2 separate regions of the Homo sapiens genome follow, and region 1 is linked to region 2. The links come from fine-mapping of genetic effects on gene expression. A gene starts in region 2. The other region holds a variant in brackets. All regions are shown on one strand. Distances are between the middles of the regions.

Region 1 (11,604 bases), 41 kb after region 2:
GGATCACTTGAGCCCAGAAACACAAGACCGGCCTGGGCAACATAGTGAGACATTGTGTCTACAAAAATGAAAAAATTAGCCAGGCATGGTAGTGTGCCCCTGTAGTCCCAGCTACTCAGGAGGCTGCGATGGGAAGATTGGCTGAGCCAGGGAGGTTGAGGCTGTAGTGAGTTGAGATCACACCACTTCACTGCAGAGCAACATCTTGTCCCCCAACCCCAGAATACCATTGGTTCTCCTCTCTTCCCTGTTCCTTGGAGATATCATAGGCAATCACTTTCCAGCCACTATTGTGTGTTAAAACAATCTGACTTTTCAGGTACTAAAATGTACTATCTGGCTAAAAACTTCAAACTGTAATGCATTTCAACATGTTTCCCCTCCCACAGTTCAGAACTGATTTTTGGTTGATGGATTTAACAGAGGGAAGAAGGCGTGTGGTCTGTTCTTTCATTCTCCTTGCTCTTTGCTTTCTCCTCCCCGAGCTTGTCCTGGTATGGATAGCTGGAGCCACTGCTAATAAACTGCTAAAATAGCTCCTTGCAGCTTGTAAACAATTATGTCTGCAGTAAATGAGGTAGAGATGCTGGAAATTCCTTGGCAGAGGAAGGGATCTAAAAGTTCAGAAAGGTAGGCATGTTAGAACTGATGTATTGTGAGACACCAAAGAACCACTAGATGATTATGTTTCCCATGAGGACCCAGAGGATGCTCTCTTTACTAAAGCAATAAGGAATAAAGCATTCATAAAGGAGGCACTAGCACCTTGAGAAACTCAATGTTGTGTGTCCTCTGTAGGTCAAGATTGATAGTAGGAGACACTCTCAGAAACTGGGCTCCCTGGTGTCAATAAGAATGATAGGATCTAGAATAGCCAGATGACAGCATAAAACTGTCGAAAGGTAGGATTGTTGAAATTAGCTGCTGCGTTAATTTCCACAACAACCTTGCAGGAAGACAGGTATACTCAATTACCCTAATGGGTAACAAGGCCAGAGTAACAACTAGGGAGCCTAAGACTAATAAACTATGGTATCCTAGCAGCTACATACATTAAGATATTGTTTGATTAATAATCTGAAAAACACCTTGGGTTGGTCAGCACATGATAGGGAATCATGATCTCTTGTCCCGTTTTAAGAACTAAGGCCATTTTAAGACTTAGAATACACTGATTAAAGGGCCATGTCCCCTTGAGGAAGTGCCAGCAATGCCATAGCAAGTAGTTAAAGTAGCTATTCACAATCTTTCCTCAAGTAGCTACTTGCTGCATCCTGAAGTGATTTGTGTCTTCCTCAAACACTTAAAGGATGCAGGAGTGATTCTCCCCATGAAAACCCATTCAATTTACCAGTTTGGTCCTTGTTTGAACTAGACAGATGATGGACCTTGATCACCTGGACATTCTGGTCATTGTTCCACTATTTTGATGAGATCATGCCAAGCAGACCTGGTAGCAAAAAGTGACTAGAGTTCTCAATGCCTAAGTAAGGCATCTGCACCTCAGGTGATAGAAGATAAGCCCTACAAATATTCAAGGGCATGACACATCTGTGAAATTTTTAGAGGTGCCTTGATCTAGACCAGGGATTGCCAAACTATGGCCCATGTATCACATCCAGCCTTTGGTATGGTTTTTACTTTTTTTTTTTTGGAAAAGGAGTCTCACTCTGTCACCCAAGCTGGAGTGCAGTGGTGCCATCCTAGTTCACTGCAACCTCTGCCTCCTGAGTTCAAGCGATTCTCCTGCCTCAGCAGTGGAATCCTGAGTAGGTGGGATTACAGGTATGCACCACCATGCCCAGCTAATTTTTTTTTTTTTTTTGAGACTGAGTCTCGCTCTACCGCCCAGGCTGGGGTGCAGTGGTGTGATCTCGGCTCACTGCAACCTCCGCCTCCTGGGTTCAAGCGATTCTCCTGCCTCAGCCTCCTGAGTAGCTGGGACTACAGGTGCAATGTCACCACGCCTGGCTAGTAGTAGAGACGTGGTTTCACCGTGTTAGCCAGGATGGTCTTGATCTCCTGACCTCGTGATCAGCCCACCTCCGCCTCCCAAAGTGCTGGGATTACAGGCGTGAGCCACTGTTCCTGGCCTAATTTTTGTATTTTTAGTAGAGATAGAATTTCACTATGTTGGCCAGGCTTGTCTCGAACTCCTGACCCCAAGTGATCCGCCCACCTTGACCTCACAAAGTTCTGGGATTATAGGCGTTAGCCACCGCGCCCGGCCAGTTTTTACGTTTTTTAATAATTGAAAAAAAAATCTAAAGAACAATAATATTTTATGATATGAAAATTATTTTAAATTAAAGCTGAATATTATAAATGAAGTTTTACTATAGCATAGCACACTTTTCATTTCCATATTGTCTATGGCTGCATTTGAGTTTCAACAGCAAAGTTGAAGAGTTGCAACAGGGACCATTTGTGAAATCTTCATCACTTCTTACTGCTGCTTAGTGAGTTGACTTGACAGTGTTTCAAGTGCCAAGCATACTTGTTTTACTTTTATTTTATTTTATCAGTGCATATCTTTCATGTCAAAACAAGAAAAGTCAACTTCAAATGTTGCACTTTTAAGTTACTGTGGCATCTGGCTTTTTTTTAATTGAATTAGATCGGAAAGCATGTGTTTAGTATGCACTGACACTATAACTATGCTAAAACAACAGAATATATGTCAACATTGCCAGACTAAGCACTCATCACAATATGTCCAATTCACAGGAAAGCAACAGGCAGAACAATTAGGAAATTTAAAATAGAATATCTTATTATAGTGGAATTTCTTCACAAGAATTACAAATGTAAATGAGGCTGCAACCAAACTTAGTTTCCAAGTGGTTCATTTGTTAGCAAGCAAGGAAACCCATTTATCAATGGTAAGCTAATTAAACTGTGTTTTTATTAGCTGAAGAAATGTGTCCGCAGAAAATAAACTTGTTCAAGACTGTGAGTCTTTTGGTAACAAAAGTTGATTGAAAAGTTGAGGACATTGGGAGCAACATCAATAGTTAAAAACAAAGTTAATTGTTCTGAGTATCTTTCCTTGTCTCTTGATGAATAGACAGATGCTACTGATACTGCTCAGCTGTTGTTTTTTACTTGAGGTATCAATGCTAAGTTTGAAGTAACTAAAGAATTAGGTTCTATGAATAGTCTGTATGGAATAACTACAAGTGAGAATAATATTTTCAAAGAAGTTGGTAAAATTTCTAATTCAGTATAATCTGAAGTAGAATCTGCTAAGATGTGCTACACGGTGGTAAAAATTTGTGTGAAGCAGACAAAGGGTTACATGGACTCATTTAAAAGCTTGTGAAAAAGTAAGATGTTAAAACCTGTAATCATTCATCAGTAGGTACTTTGCATAACATGTTTGATTCTATCATATGTTATTGAACAGGTCATGTCCAAAATGGACCTTATTCACTTTTGTGGTGTAAACATCTGCAGTTCTATGATTTTTTTGTCAAAAATAGAAGCTGAATATCCTGAATTGCCCTATCAACAAGAATTTAATGGCTTAGCAGTGGTAAAGCTTAATTGTGATTTTTTGGTTTTTGCTCAGGCTGAAACTAAAATTTTTCTAAACAAGAAGAGCTACTCTCAACCACTATTATTCTAGTCTGAATGACTTTGGAAATTTGTTTGCTAAATTTTGCTAATTTTTAGGTGAGACACAATAAGTGTTCTTATTTTTTAAAGCTATGCACTGTCATTGACAGATAAAAGGATATGATGTTTAGGATTTGTTTCAAAATAATCAGGGAAGTAAAAAAGTACAGATGAAATAATATTGTCCGTAAATGATACTAAAGCTGAGTGATATGTACACTACATTCAATACACTATTCCCTCTAACTTTCTATATGTTCAAAATTCCTATAATGAAAAATTAGGAAAAAATCAATATCCATTATTATAGCTGACAAAGAAGGAAGTCATCTTATAGATAGGCTGGCCTACAAAGATGTCCTAAGAATCAAGAGACAACCAGAATAGTCATCAAAGTGTCCATTATGGCAGCCAATCCTTCAGGCAGCTGAGAGCCTGGGAGTCGCTGCAAACTGGCTTGGAGCTAATGAGCCACATGGGAGTTAAATCAGAGTGGGGCAGGGGTGAGGCAAGCAGATGATTTAGGGTGAGAAGAAATAAAGAGTCCACAGAATAAGGAATGAAAAAAAATCTCTAGAAATCCTCTAGCTTGTGGGAATTAACAAAGGAATACTCTGGGTTGGCCAAAGACCCAGCTGACTGAAAACAGTGCAATCAAGAGCCAACTTACCCAGGAAACAGATGTGCAGGAATTCCAAATTTCCTGAAGTAGTATGGGAAAGTAGAGTAACTGACTCCCAAAATTTTTTACAAACTCAGAAAGGAGTGAAAAGAAGGTAGGCTTTGGAGAACTCCTGGATGAACATCTTGCTTACAGAAAGTTCACATGGAGAATCAATGGCAGGAAAGGTAAGAAGGGCACTGCTACATGTGGTGTGCTCATTTCAGACAATGAGCACACAGCAACATCCAGGATATTCTCCTGCCTTAGAAGGAATCACAACAAACTGTAAAATACCAGGAATGAGGAGATTTGTCCAGTGGAGATACGTTGGGGCAGTCACTGAAAGAGTGAAAATAGCTGCCTGGCTTGAGAAAGCCGCCTATTTGAAGCCATTCTCATCTAAAAGTATAGATCAGCAAGTCCAAAGTTATAATCATCACTCCATCCCCTACAATCATCGTGAGTGATTTTTTTCTTCAACACTCAAGTCAATTCCACCAACATTTTGCTGACACTGTATTGGGAAGTGTGGAAGATAAAAAATACGTATTACCGAAACGTGGACCCTAACACAGGGACACTCACCTCTAAGTGGAGAATGTAAATGGCCCTTGCAACAAACTGACCCTGAACTCCTTGACCTTCAACTTTAATCTTCTTCAGTCTTTTTCAGCCACACCCAACCATAGCCACTTCTTTGGTATTATCCTCCCTAGTACTCCTCCATCATCAAGATCTCAAACTCTGAAATTCTTCTAGACTACAAACTATTATTCTTCTGTCTTCCTGGTACCTCATAATTTTTTCTGTTTACCCTCGTCGTGAACTCCAGACCCCTTGAATGCTTCTATTCAAGCCGTCTCTTGGTTTCACTTGCCCCCTTCGTAGCCTAGACACCATAGACATGCGAAGCGACTAAAGACCACTAGGTGGCAGCAGAGCCCCAACTAGACTGTCCCCCAGCTTGGGCACCAAGTCAGATTATTAATATTTATAATGAAAGCCTGAAGTTTGAAGGGGTAAGACAATAGTGGAATTAAACAAACAATAGCAAATAATACAGGGAGGTCAGTCAGCTGGGGCCAAGAAGATCTTAAGCCCCATGCAAGTGTAAACCAGAGAAATGGTGAGACCTCAGCCATTGGGGAGATGACAGGTTACTCTCAGGTTAATTGTCTATAATCATCTCCTATCTGTCTACATGGGTAGCCTTTCCCCTGCTTTGAAACATTTCCTGCTAAACAACCCTTAACGATTTTCTATTTAAAGATCAGTTAATGTCACTAGGCCTCCTGGAATCCTTTGTACTTAGGCAATTCCCAGCACTAGATAAAATCAAACTTCTTGGCCAGGCATGGTGGCTCACGCCTGTAATCCCAGCTCTCAGGGAGACAAG[A/T]GGCGGGAGGATAGCTTAAGCCCAGGAGTTCGAGACCTGCCTGGGCAATATAGCGAGACCCTGTTCTCCACAAAAAGGAAACAAGAAAAAAGACAAAAAAAAAATCAACCTTCTTATCTCTCTTTCTCTGGGCAGCCAGGTGCTTGGCAGAAAATTACAAAAGTCTGCACAGTGACTTAATTCTAAATATGTGATATGTAACCTCAGTGGTGACTTCAATGTTCAACTTTCATTCTTCATGAACTTCTTAGGGGATTCCTCATGGAAGTATTCTAAGCCTTCCCCACTCCCTGAAATCCCTTACCACATTTCAGCTTCCCCAACTGCAGCAGTTGAGCTCACATCCTCCTTTATCTGGGGGGCTGAGGTCATCCATCCTGTCCTCTCTGAAGCCCTTCTCTACTGTAGAAAGAGCATAGGAGCTACAGAGTCTTTCCGGGTAGGTGTACCCAGTCGGATGGAGAAGATAGAAATTCCACCCTCTTCAATAGAAAGTAATAAAAATGGATATCCTGTATCTCATCTCTGAATCAACTTACTCCCCCAAAAGATGTTACAAACATTACTAACTGGAGTGTTTTCTAAACCATAGGAAGGAGCCTGAGGTGACGTCTTTTACAAATTTTATCTGGAAAGGCAATGCTTTCAAACTATACTCCAGCAAAATATGCTCCCATCATTAAACTTCAACTGACTTTATCCTATCCCGGTGGCATGTGGTTTGTGTATTCAGTCCTTCATTTGATAAATACTTACTCTAGAGACAAGCCTCATAGCCACTACACATACTGCCAAATACAGAGATGATGGAAGACTTGTATGTCTGATAATGAATATTGAAAGGGAAGAATCATTCATCCAGAATTTATGAGAATCTCCCTCCACAACTATCAAAAGAGGATCTACCCACTGGGCTGCAGGCATATGGCAGTGTGCTCTGTCCTTAGGATCAATCAAGATGGTAAGTGCCTCAGGCTTAAGTTATTTATTATAATCACTCTTCTGATATGCAAATCATTTTCAAAGGTTTTCTGGCTACTGAAAAGATCATATATGACCAGCAGGCAGGTGCACATATGTTTCAGTCGGCTTGATGGATATATCTCTCTGAATAGTTATGTAAGATTCTACTATATTTATCAGTTTTTTAATGACTAGATTATTATGGATCATCCCCGATATTATTCCTGAGTGGACTAACAAAAATACATTTTTAGAAATAATTTTTTAAATGTCAAAAACTGTAGACTGGACCTTGGTCTCAAAATGACCCTACTAAGGTACTGACAGCCTAAAAGATTCAGCTGGAGCCTCCTGTCTTTCTCTTGTTATTTTTTTTTTTTAAGACGGAGTCTAGCTCTGTCGCCCAGGCTGGAGTGCAGTGGTGCGATCTCAGCTCACTGCAACCTCTGCCGCCTGGTTCAAGCAATTCTCCTGCCTCAGCCTCCTGAGTAGCTGGGATTACAGGTGCCTGCCACTGCGCCCAGCTAATTTTTGTATTTTTAGTAGACACGGAGTTTCACCATCTTGGCGAGGCTGGTCTTGAACTCCTGACCTCGTGATCCACCCGCCCCAGCCACCCAAAGTGCTTGGATTACAGGCGTGAGCCACCGTGCCCGGCCTTCTCTCTCTCTCTTAAAGCCAAGGGTATTAAACACACATCCATTTGGAACTGTATTAATTGAGGTTATGTAATTTAATTGATGTATCAATATTAGTAAACTAATAAATCAATTTTTAATAAATTGAATTTAAAAATGAATTTAATTTGTGGAATTTGAACTGTATCCATTAATTGGGGGTATTCATCAAAAACAATTGGGTGTAACATAGGAATATAAGACCTATATCAAATATTTGGAGGGCTTTCATTAGGAATAGGAAAAGACCCGTTCCGTGCCGTCACTGCATGCAGAATTGAGATCTACAAATGGAGGATAAAGGAAGATGGCATTTTAGCTGCACGTTAAGAAAGACTTGCTAAACACAAGATTTTCTCCTAAATATTCGTTGGGAAGTGAATTCCTGATCCCTAGAGGTGTTTAAACATTAGCCAGACTGTGTGTAATATTGAAGATCTAGAAGACCTCCAGTGCCTCTGGGCCCCACCAGCCTCGAGTCTATGATTCTGTAACTAGGCAACTTAACTTCAAAATGCATTTTAAACGTTTTTTTTCCTTTCTCTTGGATTTCAACATATAACCTTGAAGCAAACTGCAGAAGCCTTTTTCCTTAGCCTTAAAATGGACTCCACGTCCCTCTTTCTCACCGAATATAGTCCCTTCACATTTATCTAACTGCATGCTAGTGTCTAAAGGCACATAATTATTATGGGGCTAATTTTTAGGCAGACCAAGTCTGGAGACCCCGCTACAGAATTCCAGAGATGACTTCAAGGTGACTAGTCAACAACCCAGCCATTGTTAAGATGATGCCAGCCTGAGATCCAGGTGGCCTGGGACCCAAGACAGCCACCAGAGCAAGACACACAGGCATTGGAATCAGCACAATTCCTGCATGCCTTCCTTACCAAGTTTTCCCATTTTGAACTCTTGCTTTCCCCGCTAGATACAAAGCAGTTCCTTTGGATAGGAGGAATCCAGCAGCTTCCCCTTTACTAGTGTTGGTTAATAAAGTCACTTTCTTTCTACCAGACCTCGCTCTTGTTAATTAGACTCCGCAAGCAGCGAACATGCGTTTGGTTCCACTTCTAGACTGGCAGGCACATGCTAAACCTCCTAAATCAGCCACATCCCTTCTCCTGCAGCCTGAAGCCTACGGCTGCATGCTAGCCTTGGAGTTACCTTTTCTACCAGCCCTAGCTCACATCTTGCACAGAAAAAGGGCAGGGCTCCAGTGAGACAAAGCTGTTAGTTTTTCAGGTGGTAGAGCTTGCCGCTATGAGTGTGCTGCTTTGTACCTAGTGAATGCATAATGGGTGAAATTGCAGCTGATAATATGACGATGAAGCAAGTGTTTAAAGTCCTTGTCTGGATGCTTGGTTTCCGGCTTGTGGGTAGAACGGAACTAAGTTACAAAACATTAGGACACGCCAATTGCAGCAGGATTTTCTGCTTTAGAATATTAACTGTTTGTTTATAAATAAATCAAGTGAAGCTAAACGGACAGAAGCTGCCCCTTTAGTGTTGGAATCAGAGGAGACAAAAGGAGCCGAAAGTTGTATTTTCCCAAGATCACTTGTTCCCTCTGAGAGCTGAAGCAGAAATTAAGGAAGCAGATTCAAGAGTTCCAGTGCCTTTAGGGCTAGCTCCAAATTGTTGCCAAGAAAAAGTATAGGGTTCAGAAAAAGCCTCTTCTGACGTTAAATTATCTGAGAGGCAAGCAGAAGAGGGGGAACTTTATTTTTGGCAGATGTGGGAATATTAATACTTTAGGAAGGGTTGTAGTTTCTAACTTTACCAATTTACTAATTTTCTGATTGTGTACTTTTAAGAAAATACTTGGCATGTGGTTTCTTCTGAAGAGTATACATGGGAGATGTGGGACTTTTTTAAAATAACTTTTTTGGGACTTTTTTTTTTTTTTTTTTTTTTTTTACAATAACTAGCACCAGGAAAAGAGGTTCTTAAGAGAAAGAATGAGCTGGGGACATGTGGCTGTTTCTGATTCTCACAAGCCTGCTCTCCTCCAAGAGTCCACAGCCCTGGCCTTGGTGGGAGAGAGTGACAACGATGTATCTTGTACAAACAAAAGTCAAAATCCCAAATCTAAAGACAGGGTGAGCAAGGTGCATCTGCAAAGTCATGGTGCCGAGAACTCAGCCAGCAAACTTAACATTTGATCAGACCATATCTGGACGTGGAAATCCAAACTGCAGAGAACCAACCTGTGGAAGTCATTACAGTTTATTATAAAAAAAAAGTAGAACCTTAAATGTGTGTCTCAGGTGATGATTAGAGTTTGATAATGTTACTAAGACAATTAAAAAACCTAAGCTTGGGTGATTTTTGTTTTTACAGAAACCAAAAGGTAGACCCTGTATATTGATTAAGCGTTGAATTCCAGGAGAAACATGAATGATCAGTAAATATTCACTGCTTATGAAATGTTTTTAAAAACTGTTATAACCCCTGTTATTGCCACATAAAGGAAGGTCATTGTCTTTCTGTAACCCTGGGACCATGACAAAACTCTTGACATTTCTGTATACTTTTAAAAACATTTATCACCTTCTTAATATACTGTAGAAACAAATACTGTTTTTCTGTCCTTCTGAAATTCTGCTTTGCCATTTTGATACACTGATTGTCTGAGAACTACTCAGACAAGTTTGTTTTTGTTTCTGTTTTGAGACAGGGTCTTGCTCTGTGGCTCAGGCCGGAGTGCATGGTTATGCCTCACTGCAATCTCCACCTCCCGGGCTCAAGAGACCCTCCCACCTCAGCCCCCTGGGGTAGCCGGGATTACAGGCTGACACCACCATGCCCAGCTCATTTTTGTCTTTTTTGTAGATACAGGGTTTTGCCATGTTGCCCAGGCTGCTCTTAAACTCCTGGGCTCAAGAGATCCTCCCTCCTTGGCCTCCCAAAGTGCTAAGATTATAGGCGTGAGCCACCATGGCCAGCAAAACCAGTTTTATTACTCACATTGATTTAGTGACGTTTCTTCCCAGTTAACAATTTTTCCATTTTTGCAAACTGATTTGGTAAAGGGGACAGACCCTTATGTTTGGTGTTTTTTTTAATGTTCAACATAAAATAAAATGGATTTTAAAAAGAATATGTAAGATTCTTCCCCAAATCATTTCTTTTCAATTCTGCTTTGTATCTAGTTTGTCTTTTTTATTTTCTTTATTAACTAACTAATGATTCTTTTTTTCTCTTTTGGATAATTTCAGAAAAAAATTTCAGGAAAAATTGCAGAAATCGTACAAAGAACTTTTTTTCCTTAGTAATTTGAGAGTATTTTACCAACATGATACCCCATCACCCTTAAATGCATTAGTGTGCAATTCTTACGAAGACTTACACCTCTTACTATATTTAAACCATTGAAATGAGGAAATTAATTCTAATACATTACTATCATTTTGTTTCAGACATCATTAATTTTTTTTCAGTTGCCCCAGTAATATCCATTTTAGCCAAATGATCCATTTTAAAATTACATATTTCATTTATCATGTCTTTTTAATATTATTTGATTTGGAACCATTTCTCAGTTTTTATGATTTCATAATTTTGACTATTTTAAACACTACAGACCACTAATTTTGTGGGATTTATCTCATTGTGGGTTTGTCTGATGTTTCCTAGTGTTTAGATTCAAATTATACGTCTTTAGCAGAGATATCACAGATTTGAAGCCGGATTCTTCACACTGCATACTATCAAGTGGTACACAATTTCAATTTGTCCTATTACTAGTAATATTAAATTGATCACTTGATTAAGATTGTATGGTAGGCAGAATTTTAAGATGGCCCTATGACCTTGGCTCATGATATTACTCCCATGATGGTGTTATATTGCAAATGGACAATTACCGAAGTAGGCCTAATCTAAATAAATCCAGCCTTTAAAAGCAGAGAGTTTTTGAGAGCTGATGGCAGAAGTCAAAAATATTCGAGATGTGGCAGAGATTCACCTCCAGAGAAGCTCTACCTTGTTGAGATGGAGAAGACCCACAGCACAGAACTGTGTGATTGGCCTCCAGGAATGGAACACAACCACCATCTGACAGCCAGCAAGGAAATAGAGACTTTGGTCTAATTGTAGCAGGGAACTGAATTCTGGGAGAGGGATTCTTCCCCAAAGCCTCCAGAGAAGAGCCCAGCCTGGCCAACACCTTGATTGCAGCCTTGGGAGACCCTAGGCAAAGAACTCAGGGGGACTGCCTGGACTTCTAACTTACAGAACTATAAGACCATAAATGGGTTGTTTCAAGCTGTTATGTTTGTGGTAAT
Region 2 (11,604 bases):
AAGCAATCTAAGTGCCCATCAACAGATGAACAGATAAAGAAAATTTGGCACATATATACAATGGAATATCATTCAACCATAAAAAGAACGAAACCCTGTCATTCACAACAACATGGATGGAACTGGAGAGCCTAAGGTTAGGTGAAATAAGTCAGGCATGGAAAGACAAATTTCACATGTTTTCACTCATATGTGGGAGCTAAAAATTTTGAAAATTGAATGTATTGCAATAGCAGAATTATGGTTGCCAGAGGCAGGGAAAGGTAACAGGAGCGAGGGGGTTAAAGTGAGGATGGTTAACAGGTACAAAACTATAGTTAGAATAAATAAGATCAGTATTCAGTAGCACAATAGGGTGATAATAATTTATTGCATTTTAAAATAACTAAAATAATGGAATTAGAATGTTCCCAACACACAAAAAATAAATGCATGAGGTAATAGACAAATGCATGAGGTAAATCAATTACTCTGATTTGATCATTACATATTGTATATCTGTACCAAAACATCACATATACCTATAAATATATACAACTATTATGCATCCATAATTTAAAATTAAAAATGTAAATTTTTTAAAAAACGGTATAGGCCAGAAGCCCTCAATATGCCGATATTGGCCTAGCTGGATCCCACACTTAGATCTACTAATGACATCAGCATTTTTAACCTTTAAGCATCCCGTCATAGAATAATCCCAACATTATGAAATCACTAGATTTTATTCTTGGCCAGAACGGCAAGTACCATGAGTAATGGAATCCCATTCATAATTGTTTTTATTCCTCACAGAAGGCAATACTGAAGACATTTAAATCAGTCTGAGTACTTGACTTTTGCTTAACTAAATTATTTAGGAATAGGTTCAAGATTGAACTATAGGGGAAAACTATAGGATTCATCCTGTTAATCTCCTTCAAAAATATCATCTGTCATTTTGACACACTTTACCCCATTAGACATCTTCATAAATTATCCCATAGTGCCTCACACTTCAGGGGAATGTATACTTGCTCAGGAGTAGGTGCTATGTAATTGCTTTGACAATAAACAAATCAAAGAACATACTTTGCAGGTGACTTATAACTTTCAAAGATCTTTCACTATAAATGTATAGAAATTCCATCTAAGTTAGCTATAAAGCAAAGAATATTCTTTCCATAATGCCACCATAAAATTGAAACATAAAATTATGATTCAAGATTAGCATTCTTTTTGGCAAGACAGGGACTGTAGATAGGGGAGTGATGTACTTGCAAGGCACTGCATTTACTAAGGTTACCCCTCTTAATATTTTTGAGATCCCTAAGTACTTTCAACAAATGTAGCATGATCATCTGCTGCTGCTTCCTACTCCTTCATTAAACTATATAATTCCACATATGAAATTATGTGAAATATAATTTCACATTATATTTCTCCCATAACTGAGGCTCCTCTGTTATAAGTACTCCCCATAACTGAGGCTCATCCTGTCTTCCAAACTGACACTCCTGGGACTTTGCTTCCTCCCTTCCTCACGTGTTTGAAAGTTAATAATGCCTAAGACCCTAGTGGTACAACTCACGGACAAATAGGACAAACTACAGGGTAAAGTCCAACTTAAAAACCTAGTTTTTCTTGTATTTCCAACGTTTAAGCAAGAAATTTGATCAGCAATATAATGTTGAAGTTATATAAAATAAGACAAATAGAACCAGAGTCACTTAGATTCAAAGCTCACATTTAAATATTAGTCAGTTGCTACCCTAGACACTCAGATGACGTTTTCCTTGGTCCAAACCCCTTATTGTGTGGCTTTGAGCAACTTTTAACCCCCACTGCAAGAGGAATCTAACTTTATAGAAGATGGGCTGGCTATTATTTGAGGACAGAGAAAAAGAACCATGTCTTTAACAAAGTAAAAAGGAACAGGTCTCAAGGGAAATGAAATCTGGGGCTCAGTTCCTTAAGGCTTTTAATGTTTCTTTTGAGACGCAGTCTCACTCTGTCGCCCAGGCTGGAGTGCAGTGGCGTGATCTCGGCTCGCTGCAAGCTCCGCCTCCCAGGTTCGTGCCATTGTCCTGCTTCAGCCTCCTGAGTAGCGGGGACCACAGGTGACCGTCACCACGCCCGGCTAATTTTTTTTGTTATCTTTAGTAGAGACAGGGTTTCACCATGTTAGCCAGGATGGTCTTGATCTCCTGACCTCGTGATCTGCCCGCCTCGGCCTCCCAAAGTGCTGGGATTACAGGCGTGAGCCACCGTGCTCGGCCAAGGCTTTTAATGTCTTAACAAACTATGCCTTCCCCCAAATCAAGTTCACTATTAGAAGTTCAAACACAACTGTACCTAAAAGTGTTCCATGGTCTATTACTTTTCCTAAGGCTTTGTAGAAACTTTTTCATCTGTACTTGCAGTTATAAGAACATCATTTTACAGGAGCAAATGTTACCACTTACAGGTGTTTTCCAGACACTAAAACCCTCTCATTCCCCAATCTTACATCTACTAATATTTCCTACTGATTGCTTGTTACAAGAATAACCAACCATACCAGGCAGATCCCTACTCATGGCGAAGAGATATACATATGTAATGAGATGTGCATTTGCTCAGGGCATGTTGCATGTTCCAGCCTGCATGGCATCACCACTGTGGACAACACCCACTCATGACGGACCCCTCCTTCCTATCTCTGGTCATTGTCTTCCCCAGGGTAGTAGCTTTTATCAACACAAACTGTGTCCACCAAATTCCAAAAGTCTAAAGTAAAAACAACCTAGATATGAGCCCAGCTCTGCTACTGACTGACAATGTGATCTTAACTTATTTAAATTCTTTGAACCTCAGGTTCCATATCTATAAAGATGAGGATCATGAAACTACTGTTCTCAGGGGGCTATCAGAAAGATTAAATGAGATTATGGTGAAGCACTCTACCAAAAAGTGAGAGGTAGAATGGAGCAGACTTTGACTAACTCATAAATAATGGCACAGATCTCAGGCCCGTCAAAGCAATCCTACCTTGCCGATGATATGAGCAGAAGCGAAAGCTGGGAATAAAGTAAAATGAAGGGAGGAATTAGAGGAGAAATGCTTAAATTAGGTGGTAGAAGGAGGAATGCAATCAAATATTGTGGGATGGAAGAAGGTGATGGTAAGATACAGTCTCAGAAGCTTACCAAGTACTAATATTCTGCAATCCAAATGCTTTAATGAAGTGGTTAACATTTAATTTATATTTTACAAAGTATGTTTTCCTCATATTTGTGGCTAAGTTTCAGCAGAAGGGTTTTGTTATTAAGTAATACTTTTTGTCCTGCCACCCATATAAACATCTTTCATATCAGATTTCATTCCAAGGATGTTTCAAGAAACCATTCGGTTCAAACACGTTTGTGACCTCTGTTCTTCAGGCCCCAGACACACAAAGATGAAGGCCAGGTGAATTTAGGTGCATCAATCATTACTTAAAATGTGCCTCTTAATCTCAACCAACCACAGCAGGCAAAAGAGGAAGAAAGACTAAAAGCTCTACCCAAACACTAACAGTAGTTGCTTCTAAGTGACATTTTTCTGCCACATTATACTTCGGTATGCTCCAAATTTTCTACAATAATCTGGTTTGGTTTAAATAGGAACACAAAAGAGTATATCCTTGTAATGGGGACAAAAATAGGAAGATCAATAAGACCTAGTATTTGCTAGCACAACAGGGTGACTATAGTAAAAAAAAAAACAATTTAATTGTAAATTTTCAAATAACTAAAAGAGTACAATTGGATTGTTTGAAACATAAAGGATAAATGCTTTTGGTGACAGCTACCCTATGTACTCTGATGTGATTATGCATTGCATGCCTATGTCAAAATATCTCATGTAACCCATAAATATATACACCTACTAGGTACCCACAAAAATTAAAAATTAAAAAACAAGAATATATCCTTGAAGCTGGGAACTTTTACTTGCTAATAGATGGTACAGAATTTACTGCAATGAGATTCTGCTTGTATACTAATAATTTTTACTTTAAAACAGACTTTAAATACAGAGTTTATATCTCAGATATAATTTAATGCAACATCTGCTTTCTAAAGATGCAAAAATCGAGATGGTAGGATCGCTTGAGCCCAGGAGGCAGAGGTGGAGGTTGCAGTGAGCAGAGATTGCGCCACTGCCCTCCAGCCTGGGCAACAGAGCGAGACCCTGTCTCAAAAAAAAAATGCAAAAATTAAGAGTCACAGTTGAAATGATTTGTTTAAGATCACACAAATAGTAACAGTTTCAGGACTAAAGCCAATGTTCTTGATTTCTAACTCAGAGCTCCTTCCACTATGACACTGTTTGAATTATGCTTCTCTGAAGTCCACCACCAACTGGGGAGCATCTGCGGTGTATGAGGTGCTACTGGAATACAAAGATGGCTAAGAAAGAGCTATTCCCTGGACTCACGGGAGGCAGTTCAAAAAAAAAGAAGGCCGGGCGCGGTAGCTCACACCTGTAATCCCAGCACTTTGGGAGGCCGAGGCAGGCAGATCACCTGAGGTCAGGAATTCGAGACCAGCCTGGCCAACATGGTGAAATCCTGTCTCTACTAAAAACACAAAATTAGCTGGGCGTGGGGGCGCATGCCTGTAATCCCAGCTACTCGGGAGGCTGAGGCAGGAGAATCGATTGAATCCAGGAGGCGGAGGTTGCGGTGAGCCAATATCGCGCCATTGCACTCCAGCCTGGGCAACAGAAGCGAAACTCCGTCTGAAAACAAAACAAAAAAAAAACCAAAACAAAAGAAAGAAAGAAAGAAAAAAGACAAGGCCAGGCACGGTGGCTCACGCCTGTAATCCCAGCACTTTGGGAGGCCGAGGCAGGCAGATCACCTGAGGTCAGGAGTTCAAGACCACCCTGGCCAACATGGTGAAACCCCGTCTCTACTAAAAATACAAAAATCAGCCAGGCGTGGTGGCCTATGCTTGTAATCCCAGCTACTTGGGAGGCTGAGGCAGGAGAATCACTTGAACCCGGTAGGCGGAGGTTGCAGTGAACCGAGATCGAGCCACTGCAGTCGCTCCAGCCTGGGCGACAGAGCGAGACTCCGTTTCAAAAAAAATAAAAAATAAAAGACAAATTGACATGAGTTCTGCTTTCACTATTAAAAAACCTTTAGTACCTACAGGTGAAACTTAGCTTTTGATTTTTCCCCTTCTTGGAAAGAGTCTGCATTTAGTCAGCTAACATTCTAGTACCACTCACAAGCTAAAGATCTTCCGTAATTTGCAAGGGAGGCAGTAGGGGGATGAGAGTTATAAGTTAGCTAACAACCAACTATTCTTTAAAGCTTAACTGTGAACTTAACTGCAATTATGCATTTCATTGACCTTCTCTAGTGTAATACCAGCTCGTCCCTTAGAAAAGAGGAAAATACACTTACGTTTTTATTTCTAGTGGTTCTAAGAACTTGTGATTTGGCTCCAGATTCCTACATGAAAACACTGCATATATTCACCTCCTTCTCTTTTCACCGCATTCGAGTTTTTCTGTCTACTACACAAAATGATAGATAGGGCCAGGTCTGCCAGAACCCTAAATACAGCGGCATCGCCCTGCTTCCTTCCAGGGGATCTTACTATTGGAAGGGCTCTGCTACACAGTACCTCAGACATCCAGAAGAGAGTTTATCTTCCCTCCAACTTCTATATATTCTTGCCATAAGGACAGCACTACCAAAGCGGGCTCCTCCTCTCAGTTGACAGAACGGTGACTGCCTGCGAGGCTCATTCTGAGATAGGGACAAGGGAAAGGGACCGGGGCGATAAGTGAGGGTCCCAGCTTGAGGGCTGGAGTGGGCACCAGACTCCCACCAACGACTAAACCGGGGGAAGTAAAGAAACTGGCCTTCCCCGCACCCAAAAATAAAACATCACATCACTAAAAAATGTAAACGTTCGCAACATTTTCTAAAACAAAGCCACTCACCTGCAAAGGGGCCACCAGCAGCAGCAGCAGCAGCAGCAGCCGCTCCTCCGAGCCGCCAAAGAGCCAGCGCCTCCTAGGACTCATCACTGCCGCCGGCATCGACGCTCTTTTCTAGCCCCTGAACCAGACGTGGGCAGGTCCTAGGGCTCTGCCTATTGGAAAGTCGAACTGTCACTCATCCACGGTCCCGGCCTACTCCCGGAACAGGAGAGGTCTCTTCCGTTTACCAAATCCCAGGAGTAAGAAGTGGGGCTCTGATTGGTTTACTCTAGAGACGAGCACATACCTGAACCAGTAAGGAGTTGGCTTCGACGCCAGCGGGCAGGCTTGGGCCTAGGGAAGTAGAAAAACACACCCTAGAGCGTCGCTGGTGCAAAACCTCGGGTGCGGGGAGCATCTTAGCTGTTTGAGGTTCTAGAAAGCGTTTAACGTCTTAAAAGAAACACCTGCGGGTGAAGACAGGTGTCAGCGGACTCTTGGAAGAGAGGAGGTGATGTTTCTTTTACTTATGGGAAATTTAGGGATTGAAACCTGAAGACGAAGCCGAGGTATCCTCCCAGAAGAAGCTCCTTTCGCACAAATTACTCGTGGTTGAAAGTCTTAAGTCGTGATTAAAACAAATGCCTTTAAAGTGCCCAATTTATAGGCAGTAACGCAACCTTACTTTCTCTTACCGCTTTTATAGGGATTCCCCTAGGCAGTTTGCTGACAGTATTTTAGGTGGGGAAGAAAAGTGATTAATGGAATGCCCTAAAAGCTTATTGCACAGAGGAAGGGAGGCTAGAGTGGAATGAGAGAATGACAAATTTGGAGGCGACAATAACTGAACAAGAGAAATCTATGAAAACACCGGAAACCTGGCACGAGGCCTTAAAAGCTTCTAAGCAGGCTTGAACTACCACACGAGGTTTTGAAGCATATGTGTCAGAACTCTTGGGTGGGCGGGAAAGATAAGGAATGTTATGGGAGATTCCCTTCTTAGAAGCTATCCTAAGTAGTGTTTCGTGTCCTCCTGTGAGTTTTTCCTGTTTCATCCTCCTAACAAATGCATTAGGTTTGTGACACGCAAGCAAGTCCTCAGAATAAATTATACATACAGTTGAAAAGATAATCTTTCCACATTTGAAATTCTGTGACACACTCTTTATTGAACTCATTAAGACCTAATCGTAGCCAGTTCTGTATCTCATTTATCCATGTTAGAGCATGACAGTTCCTCCTGGGATATCAACAGAACTTTACTTCCGGGACGGCACTAATCCGAGGCTTGACAGGTCCCAGCAGGTGATAGGTCTCACCTAGTGATAGTTAGAATTTAACTTGCACAAGATTAACTAGAGTTCAGGCCAGAACAGCTGGAAGGGGCAGCTTCCAAATCTTATACATTTGCCCTCTTGCTTTTTTCTCAATATCAGTTGAGGACAAAGTAAGGAGAAAGCTTTTCTTCTACAGTGTAATAAAGCTCCTATTCAGAGTGCCCACCATCCATACTCCGGAGGCTAATGACAGTCATTACCAAGTGACAGTCTTGTGGCATTTGGCATTTAGGGCTACTTAGTCTGGACTTAAGGGCGCCTACTCATTGGATTTAAGTTTACTGTTGTTATGGACACCCATGGAATGCTAGCTTGTCACATAAAACCTTAATATCAAACATCACTTGCCTTTTAGAATCATTCGCAAGAGTATGTGGCTTATGAATGAGTCATTTTGATATAAGATGGAAGCTTATATCAGTGATTCTGTCTAGAAGGAATTAAAAAGCAGATTTTCATCAGGAGCAAGCATGTTTGTAAGACAAATGTGCACAGAGGCTAACAGAATTTCAGGAGTTACTTTTGCCCTATGGCAAGATTGTTCTCCATACTTAATTATGTTACAGTATCATATCCTGAACCCTGTGTCCTGGTCTATTCGATGAGCTGTCTCTCTTATGAATTTTTAAATAACGAGGTCGTGGTTCACAAAGATGATCATAAATCCATTTAAGGCAAAGATGAACTCCAAAGAATATTAGACTTGTACAAACTTAGTACTTGACAGGGCTTTGGAAATTAAACTCTAGCTCCTTGTTGTACAGATAAAGAAACTGAAGCTTAAGTGATGTGCTCAGAATTACTTGGTTGGGGACAAATCCTGGGCTAGGACCCAAGGTTGCTAATTCATATAATTCTGGGAAGATGCTTCCTCTTCCTGCTGCCTTCTCCTCCTCACCCCAAAAGCAATGTATTTTTTAAATTAAGATTAATTTTAGGATTCACTTCCATTGAAGACCAGTCATGAGGACTTCAGTTCTGATACAGCAAGTGATATAGATACTATGAAAATAATTCAGTGTCATCAAACAGCTTTTGATGTAGTCTCACTTTTATCCAAACAAGAAATGAAAAGCAATAAATTATTATAGCTATGTTGTCTCTTTGTCTTCCTTTCTGTTACAGGTGTATATCAAAAAGTCAGTATTAACCCATGTGATACTTTGAGTTTTAGTTGAAAATTGTCTTCCTTGTGACCTGAATAAACCACTATTTTATTGATAGCATACATACCTGGTCAAAATAATTTCACAGTTATGTGCACAGAGCCTCTAGCCTTTTCCACGTATGGCTGAATTGGTCCACCGTGCATCAAAACATCATCCACGGACCTAGGCTATTCTCCCTTTTGCTAGCCTAGCAGAACCATTGGCTCCCTCCTTCCAGCAAACTCCAGAGTTAGCTAGTTCTATATGCCATGTACAGGAGTGTCTCCTTTTCTTCACAGTATCAGGACACACCATGAGTTGGTTATTTGCTGCCAGTGTTTAGTCTCCAACTGTACCCTACTTACTTCAGGGTCAGATTAAAATTTACCACTCGTAACCTAGTATAATAGACCTATGCGTGGCCCCCATCATTGACCTCCTAAGTACAAGACTCCCTTTTCTGAAACTAAAAACTGGAAATGCTGTTATGGGTCAGCCATCCAGACCTCTCAGAAGGGACCTTAAAGTCTGTCCCTTTCTTTCAGAAGTTAAAACTTAGAATCCTCATCTTCCTCACAGAGTAGGGTGAAGAATCATGGAGGCAGTTTTGGAATAGCTTTGCAATCTTTGAAGCACCTTGTGTCTGTCACTTTCCAGCACTGGGAACTCAGGGGCTTAATTGGACTTACAGTTCCATGTGGCTGGGGAAGCCTCACAATCATAGCTAACTCTAGAGTTTGCTGGAAGGAAGGAGCCAATGGTTTTGCTAGGCTAGCAAAATGCAGAATAGCCTAGGCAAATTGCTTGACCTCAGCCTCAGTGTCTTTATCTGTTAAACAGAGATAATACCCAAATCGCTAATGTGAAAATTAAGTGGGATAATGTGATGTGTGCCTGCCACATGGAAAGCATCTCATAAATGGTAGTTGTTATTCTTAACAATTATGGTAATGATAAATGTAAAGCATTTTACCTATTTACAAGTATTCTTATTCAAATTACTCAGTAAAGTCTTGGCATTGCGCTTGCCTCTTTTTCCTGCTCTCCACTCAAGTGGAGACCTGGACTCTTGCAGAGGGCATGAGACTGGGATTTCCCCAGCTATCTTGCAGCTACCCAGGGAGGTAATGGGCAGGAAGTGAATGCCAAAGAGGGTACAGACCCAGTGGCAGAGCCAGGAACCTCTGGTATTGGGAAGCCTGATCTATGTGAAATTCCCCTACAGTAAAACTAAACATTGACTAAGCACCTTGGCATAGGAAAAGAGCCAGGTTGATTTTTTTTCCCCACTACTTTCAGATCTGGGACAAGGATAGGGGAAAAAGGTAGAAACATGAGGAATCAAGAGAGGTGCTTTCCTCTTTTACAAATTCTCTACTCCACTAAGGAAAAACCCATGTTTCTTTAAATGCTTGTTGTTTATATGCTGGTAAACACAAACTCTGCCCTATGGAGTTTTTTTTAAAGCTTATATTTATTAATTATAAATTTATGTTTTAAAATGTTTATTGTATAAGGTTTAGAAAAGAAAAAACTTAAAATACCTATAATCCCACCCTCCAGAATTTATTTTTAACATTTTGTATATCCTATTTTTCCCATAAATCAATTACTTAAAAAAAAACCTGGACTCTTAGTATATATACTGTTTTGTGGCAATCTTTTCTACTTAATTTGTTATTAACATGTCCCAATGTCATTTAATATTTTTCTTCCGTATATAATCCCATTACGTGAATGTGCATCCAGGTGGTATGTACAAGAGTAGAGAACTGTCCAACCAATTCTCTACTCTTGGGCATTGAACTTGTTTCAGTTTCCTAAAAAGATTCATTGATTTAAATGGGCTGCTGCTTTCTCTAAATGACGGTGCTCCGGGAATGTCTACTGAACCAATGGCAATGCCTACTGGCTCCACCCTTTCTTCATGGAGACTGATAAAGTGGCCAGGAATTTTTTTCTCTATGTTCTGATATTACAGAGCTAAGAAAGGTGAAGATAGTAGCCTGATAGCTACTGAAGGATTTCTGCTTACCCTCTGTCTCCACAGAGTTTTCTATTCTTTAACCTGAAGAAAAGGTGTTTAGCTGAGGAGCCAGGGTGGGGAGGTGATATGGAGGGGATGGTGGATGGAAATCAGAGTTTGTATTAGTCCATTTTCACACTGCTGATAAAGACATACCCAAGACTGGGCAATTTACAAAAGAAAGAGGTTTAATTGAAGTTTCAGTTCCATGTGGCTGGGGAAGCCTCACAAACATGATGGAAGGCAAGGAGGAGCAAGTCATGTCTTACATGGATGGCGGCAGGCAAAGAGAGAATGAGAACCAAACGAAAGAGGTTTCTCCTTATAAAACCATTAGATCTCGTGAGACTTATTCACTATCATGAGAACAGTATGGGGAAAACCGCTGCCATAATTCAATTATCTCCCACCAGGTCCCTCCTACAACAGTGGGAATTATGGGGGATACAATTCAAGATGAGATTTGGGTGGGGACACAGCCAAACTATCAGGGCTCCATCAGTAAATCCTCACAAAACTCCTGGCATATGTGTCCCCATTTACAGATGAGGAAAGTAAAACTGGGAGAGATAATTTTTCTAAGACTGCACAGCTAGTTACAAAACCAGAGTCTGACTCTTAGCCTTTGTTCTAAGCTCTTCCCACCATGCACTGCTCCTAAAAACTTATTGATATAACTTCATTCTTCTTTTCTTTGGAAAATTTGTTGTCAGTCATCTAAGATGTATTTATCTGCTCCCTAAAAATAAAATTAAAAAACCCCTCCTGACCAGGATTTTCTTCTGCCTATGGGCTTCCCCAGTCAGCTAGCTCTTGGATAAAAGAACATATCCTCATTCTTTGATGAAGACTCAGATAACATAACTTTTCCCCTACATACATGCATATTTTCTTAAAGAAGTGACCTCACTCTACAAGTTGGAAGGTCAAACTCATAAAAGGAAGTCTTTATGAACCCTGCATCAACTTAAGAACATTACACACATATTTGTTTCCTTAGCTTTGGGGATTTATGAAATATTTTCTATATAGCAATAAGCCTATTTTTCTGCTATGGTTTATACACTGGTTCTGACGTAAGTTCTGAAAGAAGCTTCTCAGAATTGTTGACACCCATGAAGCATCTTTGAAATGGGTGTGTAACCTCATAATA

Alleles and levels. Alleles are on the strand shown, and positions count from the first base shown. SD is a standard deviation of normalised expression in the study named.
For the expression in aorta of the gene that starts at base 6,046 in region 2, A is the high allele of the variant in region 1 and T is the other (small effect, 0.23 SD a copy in GTEx).

Evidence for each region. PIP is the estimated chance that this variant, and not a neighbour inherited with it, causes the effect.
Region 1: its variant is fine-mapped to the expression of BPGM in aorta (GTEx, PIP 0.96).

What each region holds. Positions count from the first base shown.
Region 1 is chr7:134,600,118-134,611,721 of GRCh38, reverse strand. No RefSeq gene overlaps it. Among named protein-coding and RNA genes, the nearest start is that of BPGM, 41 kb to the left of the region's middle. The variant A/T (reference allele first, on the strand shown) is at 5,679.
Region 2 is chr7:134,641,295-134,652,898 of GRCh38, reverse strand. BPGM (bisphosphoglycerate mutase) reads right to left here and starts at 6,046. Exons shown (of 3, transcript NM_001724.5): 1 at 5,962-6,046. The region is part of intron 1 of LOC124901750 (a long non-coding RNA gene); the gene reads left to right. RefSeq lists a silencer at 2,408-2,702 and enhancers at 5,710-5,819, 5,920-6,069.